Linked DNA regions of Homo sapiens. The protein of the gene in region 6 purifies or fractionates together with the protein of the main gene of each other region. This does not show direct contact. Each region holds a gene or a part of one and is shown on either strand. Other genes may lie near its edges. The genes, in order: GRHL1, BAZ2A, SMARCA5, PCDHGA9, CERK, BEND3 and CEP135.

Evidence for each region.
Region 1: the proteins of BEND3 (region 6) and GRHL1 purify together in Homo sapiens (co-immunoprecipitation; one large-scale study listed by IntAct). This does not show direct contact.
Region 2: the proteins of BEND3 (region 6) and BAZ2A purify together in Homo sapiens (affinity purification with western blotting; one study listed by BioGRID). This does not show direct contact.
Region 3: the proteins of BEND3 (region 6) and SMARCA5 purify together in Homo sapiens (affinity purification with western blotting; one study listed by BioGRID). This does not show direct contact.
Region 4: the proteins of BEND3 (region 6) and PCDHGA9 purify together in Homo sapiens (co-immunoprecipitation; one large-scale study listed by IntAct). This does not show direct contact.
Region 5: the proteins of BEND3 (region 6) and CERK purify together in Homo sapiens (affinity purification with mass spectrometry; one large-scale study listed by BioGRID and IntAct). This does not show direct contact.
Region 7: the proteins of BEND3 (region 6) and CEP135 purify together in Homo sapiens (co-immunoprecipitation; one large-scale study listed by IntAct). This does not show direct contact.

The regions. Positions count from the first base shown.
Region 1 is NC_000002.12:9,965,193-9,968,692, reverse strand, and holds part of GRHL1 (grainyhead-like protein 1 homolog), read right to left. Parts: intron 3,407-3,500; coding exon 3,312-3,406; intron 1-3,311. UniProt on the Homo sapiens protein: Transcription factor involved in epithelial development. Binds directly to the consensus DNA sequence 5'-AACCGGTT-3'.
Region 2 is NC_000012.12:56,595,096-56,599,326, reverse strand, and holds the end of BAZ2A (bromodomain adjacent to zinc finger domain protein 2A), read left to right. Parts: coding exon 1-198; intron 199-315; coding exon 316-459; intron 460-543; coding exon 544-709; 3' UTR 710-3,731; downstream 3,732-4,231. UniProt on the Homo sapiens protein: Regulatory subunit of the ATP-dependent NoRC-1 and NoRC-5 ISWI chromatin remodeling complexes, which form ordered nucleosome arrays on chromatin and facilitate access to DNA during DNA-templated processes such as DNA replication, transcription, and repair.
Region 3 is NC_000004.12:143,523,702-143,527,201, forward strand, and holds part of SMARCA5 (SWI/SNF-related matrix-associated actin-dependent regulator of chromatin subfamily A member 5), read left to right. Parts: intron 1-665; coding exon 666-766; intron 767-1,749; coding exon 1,750-1,850; intron 1,851-2,579; coding exon 2,580-2,759; intron 2,760-3,500. UniProt on the Homo sapiens protein: ATPase that possesses intrinsic ATP-dependent nucleosome-remodeling activity.
Region 4 is NC_000005.10:141,405,778-141,409,277, reverse strand, and holds part of PCDHGA9 (protocadherin gamma-A9 isoform 1 precursor), read right to left. Parts: intron 1,258-3,500; exon of another isoform or gene 1,076-1,257; coding exon of another isoform or gene 1-1,075. Other genes in the region: PCDHGB6 (protocadherin gamma-B6 isoform 1 precursor), read right to left, coding at 1-1,075. UniProt on the Homo sapiens protein: Potential calcium-dependent cell-adhesion protein. May be involved in the establishment and maintenance of specific neuronal connections in the brain.
Region 5 is NC_000022.11:46,707,253-46,710,752, forward strand, and holds part of CERK (ceramide kinase), read right to left. Parts: intron 737-3,500; coding exon 591-736; intron 1-590. UniProt on the Homo sapiens protein: Catalyzes specifically the phosphorylation of ceramide to form ceramide 1-phosphate.
Region 6 is NC_000006.12:107,067,599-107,070,515, forward strand, and holds part of BEND3 (BEN domain-containing protein 3), read right to left. Parts: coding exon 1,106-2,917; 3' UTR 1-1,105. UniProt on the Homo sapiens protein: Transcriptional repressor which associates with the NoRC (nucleolar remodeling complex) complex and plays a key role in repressing rDNA transcription.
Region 7 is NC_000004.12:55,951,945-55,955,444, forward strand, and holds part of CEP135 (centrosomal protein of 135 kDa), read left to right. Parts: intron 1-141; 5' UTR 142-186; coding exon 187-299; intron 300-446; exon of another isoform or gene 447-527; intron 528-1,140; coding exon 1,141-1,331; intron 1,332-2,271; coding exon 2,272-2,439; intron 2,440-3,500. UniProt on the Homo sapiens protein: Centrosomal microtubule-binding protein involved in centriole biogenesis. Acts as a scaffolding protein during early centriole biogenesis.

The DNA.
Region 1 (3,500 bases), on a different chromosome or scaffold from region 6:
CTAGGCCTCTCTTCTGCAGGAGACCAGTGCCCTCATCTTGTCCTGCAAATCCTAAACTTCAGCATCTTACCAAAGCTCCATCTTTTAATGCTTCAAAGGCAATTGCTTCTTCTCTCTGCAAAAATTACCTCAAGCAGCTAATCTCAGCTGTGCATCAGGAAGAATACTGATTATTTCACAATGAAATGTGAACGCCTCATGGCCTTTAACCTGTCCAGAGACCTCTGACTCTTAACTACCCAAACAAATCTAATTTTGTGGAAGGACAATAAAAGGAATGAAATACGTCTACACAGCAGACAAATCCCACTAAGGGCCTGTTTCTGAGACATTTCTGCTTTTCAAAAAGCAACTTCCTTCTCTTCCACCACTTTGAAAACGAACAAATTTTCACAAGTTCCAAAACTTCCGAAAGTTTCCATGACAATGGCAGACATATGTTTATGGTGATGAATGGAGTGCACACAGGGCCAGTGTAAGATAGGTCCTAGCTTCGTCAGTGTTTTTCCCAAAGTGGAATGTAAGCCAAAGCATTCACAATTCAACCCAAAACATCCTCAAACTATCATCATTTCCAAACGGAGAAGCAGAAGCTACAGGTAAGATTCAGATGTTGACAGATTTTCAGTTTTACTCATCCTGGCATGGCCAAAAGGGTACATTAGAGATCACTAAAAGGGGAGGGGAGGAAATGCCACATAGCTCCAATAAACCCTTATGTTTGTGAGGGAGAAAGAACTGGAAATCATATTAACAAATACCACATAAATATGTACAATTATTATGTGCCAAGTATAAATCTTACAATTAAAAAAAGAAATCAACAAATGCATCCTAAATGAGAACAAGAAAGTGGGCAAAGAAAGTAGATATTTTCAGAAAACAGTAAAAAAAAAAACCAACTATACAGGATTCTGCATGTACACTTGTTCACTCTTGCTGCCCTGAGGCATTAATTACTTTAAGAATAAAAACAGAAAACATCAAGTTGGCCAGGGAAAGCAAAAAACCTCGATACTTAATTAGAACACATGCTTGAAGTTGCTGCCTGATATCAGCTTCAAAAAGACAGCAGCCTCATTAAGAAATGGCACAACACCCTTCTGGCGGCAGGCAAAGGCTTAAAATCACGTCAGTGCTGGGGGTCTGAAAGGGGAAATGAAACTGAGTTTACCTACATCAATTAGCAATGCTATTAAGGCTACTTAAGCCACTCCTCCAACAATATTTCTAATACAAATATGCTGCAGGCCTTCAGAATAAAACAAGCCATTATCCCTACCCGTCATCTTGGCTTTCATTACTCCCACCCCAAAGAGTGACACATCAAACAAACAAAGCGCCCTGCCCATGCGCTGGGCCTTTCGGCCAAGATCTCCAAGCCTATGACAAGCGCTTATTAATCCTGACCACACCCAACGAAGAAGAGCTGGCCACTCTAACCTCGTGACTCTCCTGGGGGATCAAGGGGAAAGGACTGAGCTAGTGAACTGAGGGACTAACCCAAGGTCATGGATAAGTTGGAAAAGGGAACTCAGGACTTATGGGCTCTTTATCGCCTCCTCCACAATTTCTCAGTGAGGCCCCAATGGCAAACAGCAAGTAACACTCCAGTTTGCTTTAAGAATAAAAGCATCCTGGGGCACAAGGCCAATACTTTTCATAGGCTGTTCGTAGTAGCCAGTGGACTGAGTCCTATTATGATATTTAATTTCAAAACAACTGTAACAACAATTATATAAAATGGAAAGTTTCTCTATTTATTGCTTAGCCAAGCAACAAACTCCGGACTATGCAGCCACCTGACAATTGTATGTGACTGAGGTGGTTGGCAGGAAAACCCTTCTAAAGCCACAATCACCTAAAGCTTCCTCACTGCCTGGTGGGCCCAACTGCCTAGAGTCTGCAGCCTGAAAGGCACATGTTTGTCTTGGACATGATGACAACGATAAGAAAGAAAAGCAATTATAATACAAGCAGAACATGGCTCTCAAGACCCAGTCACATGATTTTCAAAAGCATTCTGGGGCAGGATAAAATGAAACCCTAATAGTCAGCACCTAATACAGTGTCTTATTCTAAAAGTTACTAAAATTCTTATTGAATAAATAAAAGAAAAAGTAAAAAACAGAGACTGAGAAAGGACAAGAAGATGAACATCACTTCTTTCTACCAGGTCTCTGAGAGAATGCTATACCTAATATTGTAAGGAAAACTAAAGATCAGTCTTCTGTTAACAACTGTCTGAAAAATCACCTATGTTTCTATTGAGTTTTTTTTTTCTTTTTTTTGGGGGGGACAGGGTCTCACTCTGTTGCCTAGGCTGGAGTGCAGTGGCGTGATCTCAGCTCACTGTAACCCCCGTCTCCCGGGTTCAAGCGATTCTCCTGCCTCAACCTCCAGAGTAGCTGGGATTAGAAGCGTGTGCCACCACGCCTGGCTACTTTTTGTATTTTTAGTAGAGACAGGGTTTCACCATGTTGGCCAGGCTGGTCTCAAACTCCTGGCCTCAAGTGACCCACCCGCCGCAGCCTCCCAAAGTGCTGGGATTACAAGTGTGAGCCACCACTTCTGGCCTCTATTCAGTTTCTTGAGCTCCCAGTTTTTAAAGTAATCCAAAGAAAGAAAGAAATACAGGAACTCTAATAATTGAGTGGAGAAGGATCACACTCACAGGGAAGAAGGCAGGGGCAAGGCAGAAAGGACTTAGGAATATGCTGAATTTTTCTTCAAGGGCACAAAAATTCCCATTAGAGTCGCCCACAAGGAGTAACTCTAGCCAATTAGAGTTACTCCAACTGAACTGGAGGCAACTCTTCAATGGGAAAAGCCCAAGACAGAAGAATCTTAACACAGAGTCATATTTACAAGGTGATGATATGAAACAGAGTACTACTAATAATCACTTATATTTAAGAGCCTTTCTCAAAGCCACTCCAACAGTTTGATGGGCATTGTTTCATTACTCCTTACACCTCCTTCAATAGAGGGAGGAGACAGATATCACCTCCACTGTGCAAATGAGGAAATGAGGCAAAGCAAATGAGGAGTCAGACTCAAGGCTGAACAGGCAGGAGTGGCAGAGTGCAACTTAATCTCAATGTTTCACACACTGGACTCTGTGCAAAGGATGGCAACAAAAATGATCTGTTTTGGAGGAGGGGAGAATAAAAAGGGAAGAGGATAGTTTCATAACACCTGAGAATGAAACACATAAAACTGTGAAAAAAAAAAAAATCAGTTGTCAAATCATTAAACTCCTCCCATTTCTCAAATGGCTGGACATAAGGCGCCCAGACCTCACCACCCACCTTTGCTTCATCGTTGATGTCCCATGTGAAGGAAATGGCGTTATACGCAATCTCCTCGATGTTACTGATAGTGTTGAAGCTTTCTTTATAGTCAGCTACAGGAAGCGGTGGAAGAGAAAATGAAAACTCATGAGTCTTAGTTTCAACATGGGATCCCAGCAGTTCAAAATAAGATCTAGTTTTTAGCAT
Region 2 (4,231 bases), on a different chromosome or scaffold from region 6:
TTTCCCAAAGCGTGGCCAGAAGCGGAAAAGTGGTTATTCGCTGAACTTCTCAGAGGGTGATGGCCGCCGACGCCGGGTACTGTTGAGGGGCCGAGAAAGCCCAGCAGCAGGGCCTCGGTACTCGGAAGAAGGGCTCTCCCCCTCCAAGCGGCGGCGACTCTCTATGCGGAACCACCACAGTGATCTCACATTTTGCGAGTGAGTTGAGTGAATCCTGGGGGGACAGTTGGCTCTACCTCTGCCAGAGGAAAGGGCTGGGAGGGGTCAGTATATTTGCTTCCTGAGATGGAGCCATCATTGTCCCTCTAATGATAGGATTATCCTGATGGAGATGGAGTCCCATGATGCAGCCTGGCCTTTCCTAGAGCCTGTGAACCCACGTTTGGTGAGTGGGTACCGGCGCATCATCAAAAATCCTATGGATTTTTCCACCATGCGGGAGCGGCTGCTCAGGGGAGGGTAAGTAGATGTGGGTGAACCGCCCGGTCTTTGCTACTGCTGCAACTCCTACCCAGCTCACAGTTTTGCCCCTGCCCTGTCCAGGTACACCAGCTCAGAGGAGTTTGCGGCTGATGCCCTCCTGGTATTTGACAACTGCCAGACTTTCAACGAGGATGACTCTGAAGTAGGCAAGGCTGGGCACATCATGCGCCGCTTCTTCGAGAGCCGCTGGGAGGAGTTTTATCAGGGAAAACAGGCCAATCTGTGAGGCAAGGGAGGTGGGGAGTCACCTTGTGGCATCTCCCCCCACCTTCCAAACAAAAACCTGCCATTTTCACCTGCTGATGCTGCCCTGGGTCCAGACTCAAGTCAGATACAACCCTGATTTTTGACCTTGCCCTTGGCAGTGCCCCACATCCTCTTATTCCTACATCCCTTTCTCCCTTCCCTCCTCTTGCTCCTCAAGTAAGAGGTGCAGAGATGAGGTCCTTCTGGACTAAAAGCCAAAAAAAGAAAGAAAAAAATAATTTTTCTTTTCTGTTTTATTTGCTAATTAAAAATGGGGAGGGGGAAAGTCGTCCCTACTTCCTCCTCCCTGCTTCCTCTCCTCCCCTGTACGTGCCCCAGCATTCTGGGGTTATTTAACAATAGCAATAGTTCTAGTGAATGTGTGAAACCAAGAAACACTCTGTACTGTGTGCGGACCCGCAGTGACGGCCAGTAAAGTGGACTTAACTCCCAAGTGTGTCGCGCCGGACACCGGGCCCTGGACATGCTGCTTCCATGTTCAGTCCCTTCCCTGCTTCTCGCTGTCTTTCTTTTCCCACCTCCCACCCCCCAGTTTTCAGATTTTCTCTCATCCAATAATGTAAAACTATCGTGTACGGGTTCCTCCCTCCTTTTCTCTTCTCCCAAATCTTTTCCCTTCAAAGGAAAAAAAAATGTTCAGAGGTCCCTGTCTTCTGTCCCCATCTTCCTGCCGATAGCTATCCCCTGTATGATGTTGGATGCTCCTCACATGCTGAGTTTCCAGCCTTTTCTGAAACTCAGTAGCTGGGGAGAGGGCAGGGAGGCTTCCTGGGCCTTCCAGCCTCCTTCCCCACCTCCTTCCCAAACCCTCTTGGGAACTCCTCAGGGACAACTACTGCTGAGTTTGGGTGCACCCTAAGATGGAGGCCAGGTAGCAATGGGGCCGGCCTCAGAGAGAGCGCTGTGTGTGTGTGTGTGTGTGTGTGTGTGTGTGTGTGTCGGCCTCAGAGCGCGCTGTGTGTGTGTGTGTGTGTGTCAGCCTCAGAGCGCGCGCTGTGTGTGTGTGTGTGTGTGCGTGCTTGTGACCCTGTATTGTTTGATAGGATCCATTCAGTTTCCCCAAGTACCTGTTTTCATTCCCATTTTTCCCATTGTTTAAAACCATCACTTTTTTGTCTTTGGGAAACCACAGGAACAATTTCTCTGGAGACAAGGCTGTGTCTCTCTCCTGGTCATTTTTGTTCCAGCCTCTTCAGACTGTGCAATCTTTCAGCAGGAACTCCCTCTCTTCTCGGTAGCTTTGAATCTTAAGCTTCTACGGGAGAGTGGTAGAACTGGATCATTTCCTAATCCCATTTAGTTGTGCTTTTCTTCATTTACTTCATACCCCAGGACCCCTTCCCCAGCAGCAGAGACCCTGGAGCACAGGAGAGTAGGGAGGAGGGGTTCTGGGTCCATCACTGCCCTACATGTGACTATGTCCAAGTTAAGCCCCCAACACGAGAGGAAAGCTGCTGACTCCCAGCTATAGCCATGGGCACTTGGCCCCCTGCTTTTCCTGCTCAGCAGAGCCCCTCCCTTCAGAGATTACGGGTACTTGCACTGGGGAGGTGGCTGCTGGCTGGCCCAAGCAGAGAGCTGAGGCATCCAAGAAATGTTCCATTGGGGGGTGGGGGTGCCAGGTGAGGTGGAGCATTCCTTGTATTCTGGCAGCACTGAAGAGCCACTGAAGGGGGTAGGGGCAGTGTAGGTCCTGGGGCAGCCCCTTTATTCCTTTATGCCCCTTCTCCCTCATAGCCTATTTCTAAAGTCGCCTTTTCTGTCAGATAAACCTCAAAACTTTTAATTTTATTTGAGATTTTTTTTTGCTTTTAAGAGGTGGATTGAAGAATATTTGAATTGACTTTATATTATGCATAAATATTTATATTTTATCTAAATAACTGCGCTGTAACAAACTTTGTGTTAGACAGTTGAAACTGTTAGAGTTGGGGGCTCTGCTTTTTCCCCCTGGCAATTTTCCCCTGGTATAAGATGTGCTAGATTAATTTCATTGTGAGGTGGATGGGGGAGTGAAATTGTGAGGTGGATGGGGGAGTGAAATCTCCATGGTTCCTGCTTTGTGTTCCTCTCCCAGCTCCATCTCTTTCCCTAGGGACCAGGCACTCATATGGCGGGGTGGGGTCCTAGCCTCAGTTTGAAGAAGTGGGGGCTGGAGCGGGGTTGGGGGTGGTAGGGATAGGGCATGATCAAAGGGGCCATTTCTTGCTTTTCTTTCCTCATCTTCACTGCCCCCTTGAGCTAGGTGGATTTTCTCTTCATGACAAGAGTATTTGGTAGGGAAAGCAGGTTTAAAATAAAAAGACAACCCACCCCCTGCCCTTTTGCTTCCCTCCCATCAGTCTGGTTGACAGGAAGAAACCACACCATCAACACCAACAAGTTTCTGTGTTCCTTTTACAGCAAAAGGGACTTTTTATATAACCAAATGTGGTGTTTTAGTGACTTTTTGATAATGTACAGTTTTTTGTGAATTTAAATTTATTTCTTTCTATATTTTTAGGACCAATCTCATTTTTAATAAGGTTAAAAAGAAAAAAAAAGTCTAGCGAAAAAACTCCTGTTTTTGCCATGTGATGTTCCACAAGTGCAGCTGTAGAAAAGTGCTTGTCAGTTGTTGAATAAAAAAAACCACATTTGATAGAGATTCAAAAGACTCTGTGTATTCATCTTCCCTTCTACACACCTGAGGGGGAGACGGCGTTGGGATAGGTATGACTGGCTTAAGAGACCACAGGCAAGGGAACAACAGGGGCTCCTGTTCCATACCCTCTGTGTGGATGGAAAGGGTCATTAGTGCTCCTGCCTAAATGTCTGGCTGAGTTGCTGGAGCAAAGGGGGATTCAGTGCATCCAGGTCCTGCCTTGTGAGATGTGGCCCCAGCTTCCTAAGCTGCCACCTCTGTGTTCCTGTCATAGCAAATATGGGACCATCACCAGCTTACCACTTCCCACTCACGGATAAGACACCAAGACGTAGACTTTTGTGTTTTATTTAAAAAAAAAAAAGTGTGAAGTAAGACAAAATGGACCTCTACCAAGTTGTAGGGAAGGACAAGGAAAAGACCAGGGGTAGAAAAGGAGTGTAAGTTTTAGAATGGTGGCATTGGCATAGATGTGGGAAGAGTATAAAACTAGAAGAAGTCTCCAGATAAAAATATGCAAAATATGTCTGTTTAAGTATAAACATTTTCTGTCCACATGCAAAGAGGTGTTTACCCACCCAAAAAGGGTATATGTTGGAGTGGGGACTTCACTCGCGCTGGATATGTATTACCCTCCAGCCTGGAAACTTTGTCTTGGTGCAACCCCCTAAACTGTATGTTAAGGTAGAAAAGGAACATTCGCTTCCAGCCTTATAAAAATGACAGACTCCCTCTTTGGTGTTTGGTTACCTTCACAGCTATACGCCAGCCACTGAGCAGCTTTCTTGTCCTCTTAAGTTCTAAACTCTGCTCCTATGCTGGTGTCCTCCAACCATT
Region 3 (3,500 bases), on a different chromosome or scaffold from region 6:
AAATTAGATTCAGCGGTCTCAACAGAGGCATAACGTGCCTTTTTCTAAATAAGATGAAAATATTTGTTGAAAGTGTCAGAATTGGGGAGTAAGTATTAATAGTTTTACTGAACCAAGCCCTTTAGAGATTAATTGGCAGTATTAAAACTTTAGAAAATCAGTTTTTAAGGGGGTAGTATATCTGATTCTCTTAGGATGTAGAATTTAGATGTGTATTTAAAAATTTTTTTGATGAATCCGTGGTCACTGCTTAAATTTCTGAGTCCTTATGCTGCAGCTTTTGCTCGAAGTTACAATTTTAAACATGTGGTTTCTGGAACTTTTTTTTCCTTGGCAAAAAGATTTTTAAAAAGGTACACTTTAAAATTCAAATAATGAGATTTTCTGACTACATAGTTCTTGAAATTTGACTATCATATTTGAGTTTATTGGGTTCTGGTTAATGTATCGTACTGGTGTATTTTAATAACTAATGTATATTTTAAATAATTATTTAAAACATTGCAGATTTAAATGTACTCATATTTTCTACTGTCCACTGGTTGATGCCTGTTAAAAATTTAATTTTGTGGAATCTTGGTCAGCCACTTGACTATGATGTTTAAACAGTAGCTGATAATTAAAGCCAAAACTCAAATCAGGTTATTTTATTTTCATCTTAACAGTTACCGACACCGTAGAACAGAGCAAGAGGAGGATGAAGAGCTATTAACAGAAAGCTCCAAAGCAACCAATGTTTGCACTCGATTTGAAGACTCTCCATCGTGTATGTTAAACACACTTGATTTTTTTAAAAAATTGCCCTTTGAGATCTCCTTTGGTTAATGTTTTGGATTTGTGTTGGCTACTATTTGTGAAGCAAATTTTTAGTAGTCTTAGATGTTTATTGGTTATGAAATAAACTTCAGATTTTGATGGAGATGAGAGCATATTACAGGATAGTAGTGCTGTATTTCAAAGTTATATAAAATGTCATTGTGTTTGTTATTGCCCTGAAGTATATGTAAATCTAAGGATCGTTTTGCTTTATATTTGTCCCACATAAGAAAACTAATTTATTTTAAAAAAGGTACTTCATGAACACATTTGCTTACTTCTGATGTTTTTATATTAATTTAATTTTTTGTGAAATGTATTTGTTTATTGGTTAGCTTTTTATCCTCAAGTGTTTTTCAAAAGGAGATGGAGGGCTACACTGTGTACATATTAAAAAAGAAAAATCAGGTGACCGTTATGTATATTTGGTAATTATTCTGGGGAGCAAAATAAGTAGTATACCCTGAAAGAGAGTGCATTGGAATGTATAAGATATATTGGACAAGTAACTTAGGAATTTCCTATTTCTTTTTTTTTTTTTTTTACTAGAAAGAAAATAAAATCCCCAGATAACCTGTATCTGGTCTTTATGAAAGCTGAAAATACTTGGTTAGGAACACTTGGTTTTTCATTAAAAAGACGAGAGGCCAAAGAGTCTCTCAGACCAGTATATGGGTAACGTAAGAACTGAGTTGTTGGAGTGGGTACTCTGATGCCCGCAGTCATGTTTCCCGCACTTGATTATCTTCCATGTCCAGCTTTTCCACTTCAGACCATGGCAGCTACCTCTAGTATTTTGGAACTTGCAGAGTTCCTATTCAAGAATCCGTTAGTAATGAAAATAAAGTCAGTAGATATGTGTAGGCTTAGATGAAGAGATTGCCTTGTATTTCTTGTCTTAAAATGCCTATTGTGCTTTTCTTTTGTTCTTAGATGTAAAATGGGGTAAACTGAGAGATTATCAGGTCCGAGGATTAAACTGGCTCATTTCTTTGTATGAGAATGGCATCAATGGTATCCTTGCAGATGAAATGGTATGTGTTGGTAGTTTTTTTTGAAGGGTATGTTTTGTATTGAAAATATCTTATACGTTGATAAAAGTTTCTTACAGTCTACAACTGTTAGCAAATGGATCCTCTCAGAAACTAGTATAAGCAGCTTGCCTTAGTTGCATAAGTGTGATCTGTATTTTAATTGTGAGAAATTTCCATCGCTGAAAATATGATAAATTTAAAAAGAATACATTTGAGAAACATGTTTTTGGATGACTTTTATAGTACAATGATTTATTTGCTTCCAGTTTTGTAAAACAAAAGTGAGGTCATTAATTGTTTATAATTGATAAATGTTTTTTCCAGGTGGTAGCTTGTACAATTCTTAGAAAACATTTATCTTTTGTTAACTACTAGTTATGTAATGAATGTTTAAAAAAGTTTCCTTATTGCTATAATGCTAAAACGTTTAATTGGTTGGAGAAAGTATGAAGTCAAAAGAAATGTGTTTCAATGCTAGCTCTGCTAGATGACTTTGGGAATGTCACTTAAACGGGGCCTTATGCGGGTGATAATAATACCTCCTTTAGAGACTTGTGAAAATTATATGACATAACACTTACAAACTTTGATATATGTTAAGTTTTTGCCATTTATTAACTGTTATAAATATGTAGCATTTCTTTTGAACATTTCTATATGTTGGGAGGTATAATTGTGAAATAATATTTTCATTTTTCACTGCTTCATGGTTATTTTGAAATCTTTCAGGGCCTAGGAAAGACTCTTCAAACAATTTCTCTTCTTGGGTACATGAAACATTATAGAAACATTCCTGGGCCTCATATGGTTTTGGTTCCTAAGTCTACATTACACAACTGGATGAGTGAATTCAAGAGATGGGTACCAACACTTAGATCTGTTTGTTTGATAGGAGATAAAGAACAAAGAGTAAGTTTCTAGTATTTCATTACATTTTTGAGGCTAAAATAATTTGAATTCAGGCTTGGGTATGGGTATAGCTGGAAGAAGGATAAATGAGACGGGATCTTCGCAAATATTAGTATTTACAAATGTAGCATTGTCTTGGTGGATAAAAAACAGCACTTTGGGAGGCCGAGGCGGGTGGATCATGAGGTCAGGAGATCGAGACCATCCTGGCTAACACAGTGAAACCCCGTTTCTACTAAAAACTCAAAAAATTAGCTGGGTGTGGTGGCACGCATGGCCTGTAGTCCCAGCTACTTGGTAGGCTGAGGCAGGAGAATCGCTGGAATCTGGGAGGTGGAGGTTGCAGTGAGCCGAGATGGCGCCACTGCACTCCAGCCTGGGCAACAAAGCAAGACCATCTTAAAAAAAAAAAATCATACTGGGAAGAAGACATTAGAAATGGTAGAAAGCTGTAAGACTGTAGTTTGTTTCTCTCCCTTTTGGGAGTGGTTGTATAAAATCATTGGTTGTGCTCTCATTAGAAGTTATTTTCTTGTTTTTAAAAGATATTTTGAAATGTGAGTTGGTTGGAAATTTAAGGAGCCACATTTTTAGATGAATGTGTGTAGTGGTAATAGTCACAGAATTAGAGTTTTTAAAGACGGGTTGAGTCATATATAGTAATTTGGTGATTTATTATGATATTTAACAAAATAAGTTAAAATTTCGATCAGTTGACAACATCCTTGTGGGAAGAAGAGA
Region 4 (3,500 bases), on a different chromosome or scaffold from region 6:
TCTCCAAAATCTGATCAGAGAGAGAAGTGATGATTATTTCTGGGCTGTTGTCGTTTTCATCAAGGATTTCTATGATTACTTTACACTGGGTAGAGAGACCACCTCCGTCCTTCGCTTCCACTTCCATGGTGTACCTTTCTACATCTTCAAAATCAAATGACTGGTTATTCTTAATCATACCTGTTTTCTCATCCAATGAGAACATATGTTTTGTGCTCTGGGCAGTGCTTCGGAAGTAGTAGTTTATCTCAGCATTGACCCCCTCATCCTGGTCAGTGGCTGTCACTTGCAACACAGGGGACCCAGGGGGCAGATTTTCACTAAGACTAATTCTATATTCGTCTCTGCTGAAAACCGGGGGGTTATCATTGGTATCCTTGACAGAAATTTCTATGTGAGCGGTGGCACTTCTTGGTGGGTCCCCTCCGTCCAAGGCAGTCAATATCAAGCTATGAGATCTCTGTTCTTCCCGGTCTAGGAGTTTCTCCAGAGATAACTCTGGGTATTTGCCACCATCGGAATTAACTCTAACCATTAATGAAAAATAAGGATTAGAGTTTATCTTATAATCTTTAATTGAGTTTATGTTTATATCAGGATCCGTGGCAGGGTCAAGCGATAGTCGTGTACCAGCGGATGCAGATTCGAAAATTTCTAAATGTATTTCCTTTTTATCAAATTGAGGGGCGTGGTCATTAACATCCTCAATCACCACAATGACATGAAAAATATTTAAAGGATTTTCCACCACAGCTTCCAATTGCAACTCACATCTTCTTCTCTCTTTGCATATTTGCTCACGGTCTATTCGGTTCTTCACAAGTAAGTCCCCGCTCTCCGCGTCTACGCTGAAGTGCAGCTTCTCCGCGCTCACTCGCAGCTTGCGAGCCGACACATCCAGGACACTGAGCCCTAGATCCTTAGCGAGGTTCCCCACCACCGAGCCCTTGGCCAGCTCCTCCGGAATCGAGTAGCGGATCGGCTCACTCAGGGTGGGGTAGAACAAAGGCAGCAGCAAAGGAAATAGCACCTGCCGCGGGCCGGCCCGGCGCCTCTGCGCGCAGCTCCCTCCCATCGTTCGCTCGGGTTCTCGCTGGGTCCCCGCTTTTCCAGTTGGAGAAAGTGCACTCTACCGCGCTAAAAGAGCATTCGGCCCAGGACAGGAGGAGTCCCGGGTCTCGGAGCTGGCAATCCGCTGTGCTGGGAAAGGTCTGCGCAGCCGGGAGGCTCTGTGTGGGAGCTGGTTTTCTTCTTTCTGTTGTTGGCTGCGCAGGGAATCCCAGGCCAGAGGCTGACGGATCCCCGGCGTCAGCGCTTGCTCTGCACTGGCCGACAGCGGCGCCCAGAGGCTCCGTGCGGGACAGCAGCCCGGTTTTTCATTTTGAATTCGGTCTCCGAAATGTATATATTCTTCGAAAATGCAGGTGTACATCCCCCTCAAATTTTGCTCTCACCATAATATTATAGTAGATATTTCTATGCTTTGTGTTTTAAATAAATCTATTATGCACAATTTCAAACTTATACAACAGTAGGGAGTATATATAGTGAACCTTCACATAGCCATCACCCCACCTTCAACAATGATCACCACAAAGCCAATCTTTGTTTAATATATACTGCGCTCCCCCATTATTTTTAAGTAATACGAGATATAGAATGTCAACCAATGCTTCTTTTTAAGATGAGACATTAAGGTCAAGAATTTTATCTTTCAGCTTATGTTCTACAATCTGTTACCAATGCACAATAAGTTAAGTCCTACATAGCCTAAGAAAAACAGAAATAAAGATTTTCCATACTCCATTCAGTCATCTGTCTGGTGAGCCTCGTGTTCTGGTTTTAAGGGCAAGAGACATTTTTGTGGTATCGAATAGTAACTACCTACCATGACATACAAGCCTTCATGGATATCTGTTATGTTTTCCCCAAATTAACATACATTTCAATATTTATAAATACTAAGTATGAAGGCTACTCCTCAGAACAGAAATTGTAACAATTTTCTTGTTGCATGGTTAAAAATATGAGCCTGAAGTATGCTTTATTTTTTTTGCTACCCACTTAAGGGGGAAAACGTGTTTGAAATAATTAAAATGTCTGTATGTCATAAAGGATTCCCAGACACTTCAGCTTTTTTTTCTTAAAAATAAAGCAACTGAAACCCAAATAATTACAAACAAATAAAACAATTCTTCATTTCCACAGAAATGCCAGCAGTCATCAGTGTATCTATGGATCACATGTTTAGCATAGAATTTTGAGTCAACTTCAAAGCTTATTTTCAAATGTCTTGTGAAATGTTATTTACTATTTGAAACAACACTATGTTTAAAATAACATTAAATAATACATTATTCTCTTCCTTATAGCTAAAAACAGTAAAATAGTTTTAGAATCTTCCCAGCAGTTCCTGAGAATATTTTCTTAAATTATATCTGATATGCAAGTTCATTTCTAGACTCAAAAGTTGGAGAATTGAGCCAGAAATAATATATAAGTGAGAGAAATATTTTTAATTCCTTGTTTTGTCATTTCACAGTGTCCAGTCTTAGAAACTTCTCTTGAGCAAGCATATACTATAGAAAAGAAGAATGTCCTACTATTCTCCATAATTTAACATTAAAGCATTAGGAAATTAAGACCTTTGAAGATATGAGAATAAAAGATGTGACAACTTTCACCATTAAAGGGAAAAAATTGGTTTACTAGGGTTTGGAAGTGGATAACTGAAGTTTGAATCTTCGTCAGAAAATATCTGTAAACACAAACAGACTTTACACACTTGTGATCTGAAAAATATAACCTCAAAGAGGTGTTTTCCTGTCATAGAAATGGAAGAATAGAAGCAATAAATCTGGGCTTTCAGCTGTTTCTCTAAGAAGAATACATTTACCTTTTTATCAGTTTACCCTTACAAACATAGTATGACCTGAATAAATGATCGTAGGAGTAAGAATTTGCTGGGTGAGGTGGTTCACACCTCACCCAGTGCTTTGGGAAACTGAAGCAGGAAGATCGTTTGAGACCAGTCTGGGCAACATAGCTTGCTAGCCCTCCCACCTCAGTCCTAGCTACTGTGAAGGCTGAGGTGGGAGGATTGCATAAGCCCAGGAGATTGAGACTGCAGTAAGCTTTACCCACACCACTGCATTCCACCCTGGACAACAGAATGACACCCCCATCTCTTAAAAAAAAAAAAAAAGGAGTAAGAATTTTATGATATGAGTCCACTGCAACCAATGAAGCAACCCTACCCAAAAAGCCCACATCAATGCAGGCTGAGAGCTACCCCATGAAGTATGGTTTACGTTGACAGCAGGTTAATTATTATGAGAACATGAAAGTTATATCAGCAAATATAACTAATAAATGCCTCCTTTCAGTGTTGGAGCAACAATTAGGCCCAGTGAAAAGTGATGAGAAACACACTGATATCAACTTATACTACCTTAAGTACAGACAGTTAAAGAGAAAGCTAACTATAATAGAAAGTTAAG
Region 5 (3,500 bases), on a different chromosome or scaffold from region 6:
AACACACCACGCTCAGGCCCTCAGCTTGACTTAGCTTAACACTGTGATTTTTCAAAGAACAAGGTGGTTCCTAGAAGGATGTTGAATGGACCAAGCCGAACCAGCACTTCAGGACACAGCCCAGCTGTTCCCGGGCTCGGCTAGGTCCTGCCCTTGGTTCCGCCCCCACCTTTCCCACTCAGTCTCCTCCCAACTCCCCAGCCCGATTCCTGCCCACACCCACCCCTAACTCCCGGTTCCTTCAGGTCCAGAAGCCACTTCTTCCAGAACGCACCCCCTGCCAACCTACCCACCTGCTCCCGGGCACCGGGGGTTCCCCACTCCAGGACTGCACCCCCAGCGGTGGGGTTCTCCTGCCTTGCGTGAAGCAGCCTTTGGGGGAGTCGGGCAACTTTCCTTTCCACGAGTGTCTATTTCATTGGGGTCATACTCTCAATGATATCCCCCCAAGAGTGGCCCTAATGTTAGGAAATCTGTACGAACTAAACTGAGTATAATTGGGTTATTAAGTGTCCGAGGTGGCTACTTGTGCAGAACAATTCCTAAGGACGGGAACGAAGAGAACAGAGAATGCCAGGCCGGCTCCATACCTGCGGGAATGATTCCAATCCGGAGGCTACTGGGGACCAGCACAGCCCGGGGGTGGTTCTGGTCGACCCCGGCGCTCCTCTGCGTCCTCCCAATCAGACCGTGCAGCACCTCGCTGAACATACCATCTCCGCCGACACAGACGATGCTGCAGGAGGAACACAGCCGGTCAGGGCTCCTGCAGGTGCGGCCCTCTGAGCGCAGCAGGCCTGAGGCTTCCAGCTTCAGGAGGGGCAGCCTGCACACCTGGCCCTTGGCAGGCATCTAGAAGTGCGGCTCCTGAAATGTCCCTAAGTGATAAGGTCGTGCCTCTGTGCCAGTTGGCCTAGACCACGTGTACAAATAATGAGATTGATGGCAAATACTGGCTTTCCTTCTGTGAGTCTGGAATTTGGGTGGCTAGGCAGAGAATGCCTGCATGCCTGTACCCCCTCAAAAACACTACACTCTGGGTCTCAGGACTCAAGTTTGCGGGGCGGGAAGAGTACACCTGTGCTGCTGCATTTGTGGGAGCAGAGAGGGTGCACTCCAGGTGACCCGCACTGCGGGAGAGGCACAGCAGTCTGCGCGGGGACGTTTCTCCTTTGCTAAGCTGGCTGTGCAGCCTTGCTCTGTCCCGTCAGAAATCTCAGCCGAGAGCACGACTCTAGCTCAGGCAGCAAATCACCAGCCGTGTGGGTGGTCTTGAGGACCCAAGGCAAGAGCAGAGGGGACGGAATAAATGCGGACAAAATGGGGCATGAGACAATCTAAGGAGAGGAGATGGAGAAAGGGGACAGTGGCTGAAGGGAGAAAGGACGGGTTGGTTTCAGGGTGTGCTGTCCTATGCCGGGGGTAACCCACAGGGAACCAACACTGAGGTGGCAGAATGAGAGGTGCAGGCATGGAGACAGACATGTCACTGCAGCCCAGAGGGAAGGCAGAGGACAGGGCTCAGGTTTCCTGGACATCTCTATAGCCTACGGCAGCCCAAGAGCTCTCATCACCCGGGAAGAGAGGGTTGCAGGGGGAAGGTCCGCCGGTAGAGGAGCGGTGTGAGTCGACTAGGGGGTGCAGCCTGAGGGGCCTCCCTCAAGCATGACAGCATCAAGGTGCCTGCCCATTCCCCAGTGGGTCTGTCTGTGCAGGCGCGACCAGTCTCCAGGGCTGGGATCTCTGCCCACCACCCACCACTCAGGCCACCTGCTTTGGGCCCGGCTCCCATGGGAAGGCTCTTTGCCCTTCCCCGTAGCCTACACCTTGCACCGGGGCAGCCTTCCCAGCGGGGCTGTGGTTTCGAGGACAGGGCATCCTTGAATGGGCAGTGTAGCATCTGTGTGTTAGACAGACAGATCACTCAGACAGACAGCTCAGCCGCAGGAAGAGCAGCCCTCACTGGCCAGGCCTCCCAGCCTCCTGCACGGCATGTCCCTGGGTTTGGGGAGAAGGCGTGCCCTCAAGAGGCGAGGCTGATCCCTTGGCTAGGGTGGGTGCAATAAGGTGCCAGCCCCATCCCTGCTGAAAAGTGAAGACGACTGTCTTCCTGCCAAGCTGCTGTCGGGTGGAGGTGGTGGGAAGAAGTACATGGAGGAGCTGCCATCGGGTGGAGTTGGGGAGATGTGCATGGAGGAGCCCCCTGCTTCCTGGAGCCCATGAACAGAACACTCCCGCATTAGGAGGGGAGCAAAGGGGTCTCCCTGTCAGCACCTGGGGGCAGGGGCTCCTTTTATTTCCCTTTCTAACCTTAGCACCAGCAGAGTGCTGGGACCTGGAGGACCCTCAATAATGTTTGTGGAATGAATAATGATTTCAATAAATATCCGCTGCAATTTATAACACATTGCTCACCGACTCCAGATGGAACAGAGAGAAGAAAACAAAAAGCCAACCAATGACAAGGCAATTAACTACAGGGGAATAGCTAAACTCAAGATGAAGAGTGAAATTTTAAGCATAAAGAACAGCACAGAAGAGCTGGACAGACTTGAGTACATGAATTTGAAAACTTCTACTGGGAAGAATTAATGCCATAAGCAAAATTAAAAGACAATTTCAAAATTAGCAAAAATATTTGCAAAAATATGAATATAAATATGAATTGCCTATTATTTGTTGGATAAGAGAACAAATGACTGAAATTATGGCCAACAAAAGAAAATGGGCCAAAGACATAAAAATCAATTCCAAGAAGCCAGCTAGCCAATAAACATATTTCTTAAAATATTAGAGACTTTCACATGTCAAATTAGCAGAGAAATTTTATACTGATAATACCAAACATGTTGACAAAGACAGTAAATAATATACTATAAGAAAGAATGTAAACTGGCCGGGCGCGGTGGCTCATGCCTGTAATCCCAGCACTTTGGGAGGCTGAGGCGGGTCGCGTGGATCACCTGAGGTCAGGAGTTCGAGACCAGCCTGGCCAACATGGCGAAATCCTGTCTCTACTAAAAACACAAAAATTAGCTGGGCGTGGTGTTGGGCACCTATAATCCCAGCTACTCGGGAGGTTGAGGCAGGAGAATCATTTGGACTTGGGAGGCCGAAGCTGCCGAGGTCACGCCATTGCACTCCAGCCTGGGCAACAAGAGCGAAACTCTGCCTCAAAAACGAAAAAAAAAAAAAAGAATGTAAGTTAATAGAATCTCTTTCGAAAGCAATATGGCTGTACACGGCAGAGATTTTAAAATGTTAATCTCCTATGACTAATTTCATTTCTAGGAATTTACCTTAAAAATGTAGATGTATGCAGAGAGATTTATGTACAACAATGCTATCCTAAGAGCAAAAATTGGAAAGAGCCTGAACATCTACAAGTGAGAGGCTAAATAAATATGGCATGCCCACATAATGGACCATGATATGGGCATTAAAAATAGTAGTTCTGGGAAATCTCTAGGAATTTTGGGGAAAAGAAGAATCCCAAACTG
Region 6 (2,917 bases):
TGTCCTTCCAATGCATGGTATCCCCAAGAGGGGCCCAGACCTGGGCCCGCCCTGAGGAATGAGGATGTAGTACTGCCTGGAGTAGCTAACACTGAGGTCTGGGGAAGTCACCACAAAGCTCCCGGAACCTGGATTTTGTACAAATACACACACGGAAAAGTAAACAGTTCATGGTGAGCTCAAAGAGGCCCACCCTTAAATCTAACAAGAAGCCAAAAGCCCCTGCACTGTTTTCCAAGGAAACATGTCCACTCCCTCCAACCAGCAACCATGTATGGAGAAGGAATGGGGGCAGCGGAAGGACACGGCTCAGATGGAGACACTGCGAACGTGTTTCCACGGCTGTCTACATTCATATCATCATCATCCAGTGTTCTCGCCTAAAGAGTGACACAACATTCTACCAACGCGCCTGAAGGACAGGCCAAGCTGAACGGAAGCCTTCCCTGGCACCAGAGCAGAAGGGAAAACTTGCATGTGGTCGTAAAGGACTTCGCACTATTCCATCCCCTCTACTGCCATCCAAGGGGCATCTTGACTCTTCCAAAATCAGATGTAAAAAACAAGGTCAGTAAAATCAGTATCCATGCCACCTGAAGCTATGATTAGCCACTGTGCACGAACATGGCACTTTTAAAGAGATTTTTTTCTAAGTAAAATGGCCCCCAAAGAGCCCAATGATTTTTTTTAAGGGTTTCTTTTTAATTAAAAAAAAATGGGTCAAAATGGAAGATGTAAAATATGGGAAGAGGGGCAAGAGAGTTGCTGGGTTTGCATTATAAGCTGTGAGGGGCTGGGGAGGGCACAACCAGGGAGAGAGGACCCCTAACCTCTGGTCCCTGCCCTCACAGCTTGCTCTCCCCACACTCAGGCTGCCCCGCCGGGGCACATAGGACAGAAGTTGTAAGTACAAGAGACCAAACTCAAGGCTTCTTTCTTGCGGTTGGGTGGGTGTTTACGTGTGCAAATGTAGTAAGCCACTCCCCACGGACATAAGGTGCCTGTCTGTGGATGCCATAGGCGTGCTCCCAAGTATTGCTCAGTCCCAAGGGTGCCCATCGCTCAGCCTCTGGTGACCCCGAATCTCTGGGCAGGTCACGGGCCTTCACTTCTCCACTTTCTTTGCTTTCTTGAGGATGTCGCATTTTTTCCTGTTGGGGCGGCGGCACCTCTCATCGATGCTGGGGATACATTCGTAGTGCCACACCTCCTCCATCTTCTCCACCGGGTAGACGGCTTCCACGTAGTGGCGGATGAGCCGCAGCCGCGTGGGGTCCAGTTGCTTCTTGTTGCAAGCCCCGGAATGGTTGTACTGCAGCCGGAGGTTCTCGGCGGTGAAGAGTTCGGGAAACAGGCGGACGAGGAGCCGGGCGGCAAAGTTGCCCACGGAGAGGCTCTGCTGCACGATCTCACGCACCTCCTTGTCAGACAGCAGGTAGGGAGAAGGCACCGGGAAGTCAGGCGAGGGGACCACCAGCTCGTCCAAGGGGATCTTGCAAAAGTCCTTGCTGCTCCTCTCGGGGGGCAGTGGGGGCCCCTCAAACTCCTCCCGGAACCTCTCGGGGTTGATTGCATAGCTGGTCAAGTCTCTGCACTCAGGGCCCGGCACGTGGACCTTGCGCTGCTGCTGGTAGGAGCGCCTTTGCTCCGTGTCCCGGCGCCGGCAGCGCTCATCCAGTTTGCCCACGAACTCCAGGGTCCAGACGCGGTCGTTTTTGGCGCGTGGGTAGAGCAGCTGCACGTAGTGGCGGATGAGCTTGATGCGGGAGGGGTCCAGCTGCTTCTTGCCCAGGGAGCCGCTGCAGTTGTACTGCTTGCGCAGGTTCTCGTGCGTGAAGAGCTCGGGGAACAGGTGCACCAGCAGGCGCGAGGCGAAGTTGCCGATGGACAGGCTGCTCTCGTAGATGCTGCGTAGCTGCTCCTTGCTGAGCAGGCAGTCGGCACCGGGCACCTCGAAGTCAGGCTGGGGGATCTCTAACTTGTCGAAGTCGATGGGCACCAGCCAGATCTTCTTGGAGCGGCGACCCGGCCGCTCGCCCTCGAAGCTGTCCTCCACCTTGACCACTGAGATGTCGTCGGGCAGACTGGAGGAGTCGTAGCAGTCATCACGCGGGGGGTCGCCTTCACTGCCCGCGTCCAGCCCCAGGCCCTCGAGCTCGTCGTTGATGCGCTGGGCACACTGCTGCAGCCAGGCCTCCTCCTCCTGCATGTCAGGGAAGTAGATCTCCGTGTAGTTGCGGATGATCTGCAGCCGCTGCGGGTCCAGCTCCTGCTTTCCACCGTCCCCGTAGCAGCTGTACTGTTCACCCAGCTTGCGGTGGTCGAAGAGCTCGGGGAAGAGCCGGTGGAGGAGGAAGACGGCAAACTCGCCTGGTGAGGAGGCTTCGTCCAGGAACTCAGTGAGGTCCTGCGTGTCCACCACGTGGTCTGAGGCGATGGTGCTGCTCCGGTCAAGAGACAGGGCCTCCTCCTGGTCTTTGTTGTCCAGGAAGTGGCCGGGGTCCACCTGCTCTGCCTCAAAGAAGCTGGCGACCTGGCCGCTGGGCTGGCTGTCCTCCATTTCCCGCTGGGCCCAGAAGCGGCTGAAGAAGTCGTTCAGCTGGGGCAGGCACTCGGCCTGCCACACAGCCGTGTCCTTCACCGAGGGGTAGTAGACCTCCACATAGTTGCGGATGAGCTGCAGGTGCAGCGACTCCAGCTTGCGCTTGGCCGCAAAGCCACAGGCACTGCAGCCCCGGGAGAAGTCCACGTCGCTGAAGAGCTCGGGGAAGAGCTGCACCAGCAAGCGGCAGGCCAGGTCCCCCCCTGACAGGCTCTGGTCCACGATCTGCTTGAGCTCTGCGGCTGTGAGCTGGTACTCAGGGGGCGGCTGGAATTTGGCCACCATCTCAGTGGGGCTCACCTGCTTCTTGATGCG
Region 7 (3,500 bases), on a different chromosome or scaffold from region 6:
TAAATCTGAATTTTCCAGAAGGCTACCTACCTGAAGAAAAACAAAAAATAATTGCTTCATATTAAAATAATTTTTTCTTCTTATTGTGAAACAACAATCATAGCTATAATAAGATAATGATGTTTCATTCTTTTCTCTCAGGACTTTAATTTTTGGAAGTGAATAAAACTTGTTTTAGAAGACGAGATGACTACAGCTGTAGAGAGAAAGTATATTAATATTAGGAAAAGGCTGGATCAGCTGGGATACCGCCAGACTCTGACAGTGGAGTGTTTACCTTTGGTAGAAAAACTTTTCAGGTAAAGACAAAAATACAGTTTTCAACCTTTATGATCCCTAACCACTTACCTCATTTCTGATTGAACTTCATGCTTTGGTAAAGAAAAGGGTAGCTTTCCGGAAAGGCTTTCAATCATGAAGCTTATCTGTTTTTTCCCTGTCCTCAATCCAGGCCTTCCACACGGCAGAACTCTAAAGGCCACCACTCACGCTGTACTGTTCAAAGTCAACATTTCTGGGGGTTTTCTCTGTGAATGGAATTACAGTTTTTTGGGTTTCTGATATAATTGAGAGACACTTTTCCCTTAAGTTCTTTTTTTTTCCCCCCCTTAAGTTCTATGTCTGCTTCACTGGTCTTCAAATACAGTCATGGATAGTTTCATGACAGGGATACGTTCTGAGAAACATGTCATCATTAGGTGATTTTTTCGTTGTACCAACATCATAGGGTGTGCTTACACAAACCTAGATGGTGTCGCCTACCACAAACCTAGGCTATATGGTCTGTATCCTATGGCTCCTAGGCTACAAACCTGTATAGCATGTTACTATACTGAATACTGTAGGTAATTGTTAACACAGTGGTGCCTATTTGTATATCTGAACATATCTAAACATAGAAAAGGTATTGTGTTGTGCTACAGTGTTACAATGGCCAGATCTCATGAGGCAATAGGAATTTTTCAGCTGCCCCCATTATAAATCTTACAGGACTACTCTCCTTCCTATATGTGGTCTGTCGTTGACCAAAATGTCATCATGTGGTGCATGACTGTATTTTAAGCCTCTTTAGAAATATGTTTTTAGTTATTAGAAAGTTAATGAAATATTTCCTGGTATTTAAATTTTCTGTTCTTTTAGCGACTTAGTTCATACAACTGAGAGCCTTCGGCAATCAAAATTATCTGCTGTGAAAGCTGAAAAAGAAAGTGCCAATTTTGATTTTGTTTTGGAACCCTATAAACTTGAAAATGCAAGATTGAGTAGAGAAAATAATGAATTATACCTAGAGTTAATGAAACTGAGAGAACATTCAGACCAACACGTTAAAGGTAAGTGAAAATTTGATAATTTTTAAAATGCAATGTCTTTGTCCTTTTTATTTTAGAAGGAAAAGCTAACGTCTAATTTTAAAACTATTGATTAGAAAATATAGTAGTCCTACAGCTGGATGGTGTGTGCCTATAGTCCCAGCTACTCGGGAGTTTAAGGTGGGAGGATTGCTTGAGCCCAGGAGTTTGAGACCAGCCTAGGCAACATAGTGAGAACTTGTTTCAAAAAAAAAGAAAAGAAAAGAAAATATGGTACTCCTTCTGCTAATAGCCCCTGAAATACTATAGGGTATGTTGAAGAGTTCCTGAGAAGGAAAATAAATGTGCATTATATAGCTATGATAATCACTATATGTGGATTAAATTTTTAGAATTAAAAATTTAATTAAAATTTTAGAATTAAAATTGCCATAGGGAATATTAAATGCTGGATTTGAAGAAATGTTCTTGAAACAACTTTTGTTTTTCCCTTACTGAAAATAAAAGTAGTAAATAAGGTGAAAACCATGTATCATGCTGACTGTTTTATAGTCAGTCTTTGAGCTGTCAAGTAGAATAGGATGATTTCAAAGGTACTAGGGAAAAGATAATTATATGGTTATCTTTGTATGAATTATTCTTATATTCAGTAGAAAACTTTATCTAATCCATGGTATGAATTCATAATCCTTTAGCTTCAGACCCAATTTACTGGATCAAAAGCTATGATGTACGTTAGGCTAATACAGTAGCTGAAAAATGAAGATTCTCTTTTGTGCTTAGTGAGTTATTTGCAGTTTTGTTAATAATAGTAGAAGAAGGAATAAGTGTCAACTAAAGCATGCATAAGAAGCAGGTGGAGACTTTTAAATTGATATGACTTTTTGTATTTTGTGAAATGGAAAAACTTCATTGGATTTCTTGATCTTTAAAACGGTCTTTGAATCTTTTTCATTTTAAGAGTTGAAAACTTCATTGAAGAAATGTGCACGTGAAACAGCTGATCTGAAATTTCTGAATAACCAATATGCTCATAAACTCAAACTGTTGGAGAAAGAGAGCAAAGCTAAGAATGAAAGAATTCAACAACTTCAAGAAAAGAATTTGCATGCTGTAGTACAAACTCCAGGTAAATCGATTCCTTCTCGAGACAAATTATACACATTTAATCTTTTAACGATATTAACACCATTGACTAAAATAGGACTTTGGATTGGATTTTCATGCTTAGACTTTAGTGTTTGAAAATATATATTGAATAGACCGTAAACTTCTTGATTTATTTCTAATGATCCGGGTAGTAATTTATACGTGTGCTTAGAAATGTATGTAGTATTAGTTACTTAGATACTAGTCTAACTTTAATGCCCAGAGCTTTCTCTAATCAATATTTTAAATTCTTTTTTCTATTATTATTATCATTATTATTTTAGTTGTAAAAGTAATCCATACTCATTAAAGAATTTGGAAATTATGTACTTTCTTAGTTTATTTTACTATTTTTAGCATTATGCTTAGTAGTTATAGAGCAAGAAAAGGAAATGATGGGTCCAGGTGCAGTGGCTCACACCTGTAATCCCACCACTTTGGGAGGCTGAAGTGGGCAGATCATTTGAGGCCGCTTCAAGACCTGTGTGGGAACGTGATGAAACCCCACCTCTACCAAAAATACAAAAATTAGCTGGGCATGGTGGCGCAAGCCTATAGTTCCAGCTACTTGGGAGGCTGAGGTGGGAGGATTGCTTGAGCCTGGGAGGCGGAGGTTGCAGTGAGCTGAGATTGCACCACTGCACTCCAGCTTGGGTGATAGAGTGAGACCCTGTCTCAAAAAAAAAAAAAGAAATGATGGGCCACATCCAGAGTTGGTGATTGTTCAGCAGGTATGGGTTGGTGGTAGAATCTACAATATTAGTGACAAAATCATTAAGATAGCTGAACCATGGGATCAAGATTATGAAATTAAGTGAGTAACAGGGGGCTGCTGGATTATGAGGCTAGGTCAAGACAGATTAAAGAGCATGATGAGTACCAAAAGTAATTTGTTTGCTATGAAGATTGCAGTCAGAGTGGAATTTTGGAGTTGAAGAACTAGAAGCCAGCAGAGTTCTGAGTGATGACAAAGGCCAAAGTGTATCATCTTATTGTGTGCCTGAAGTTGAGGGGAGAGGAGACTCCTGAGAGTGGACAGAT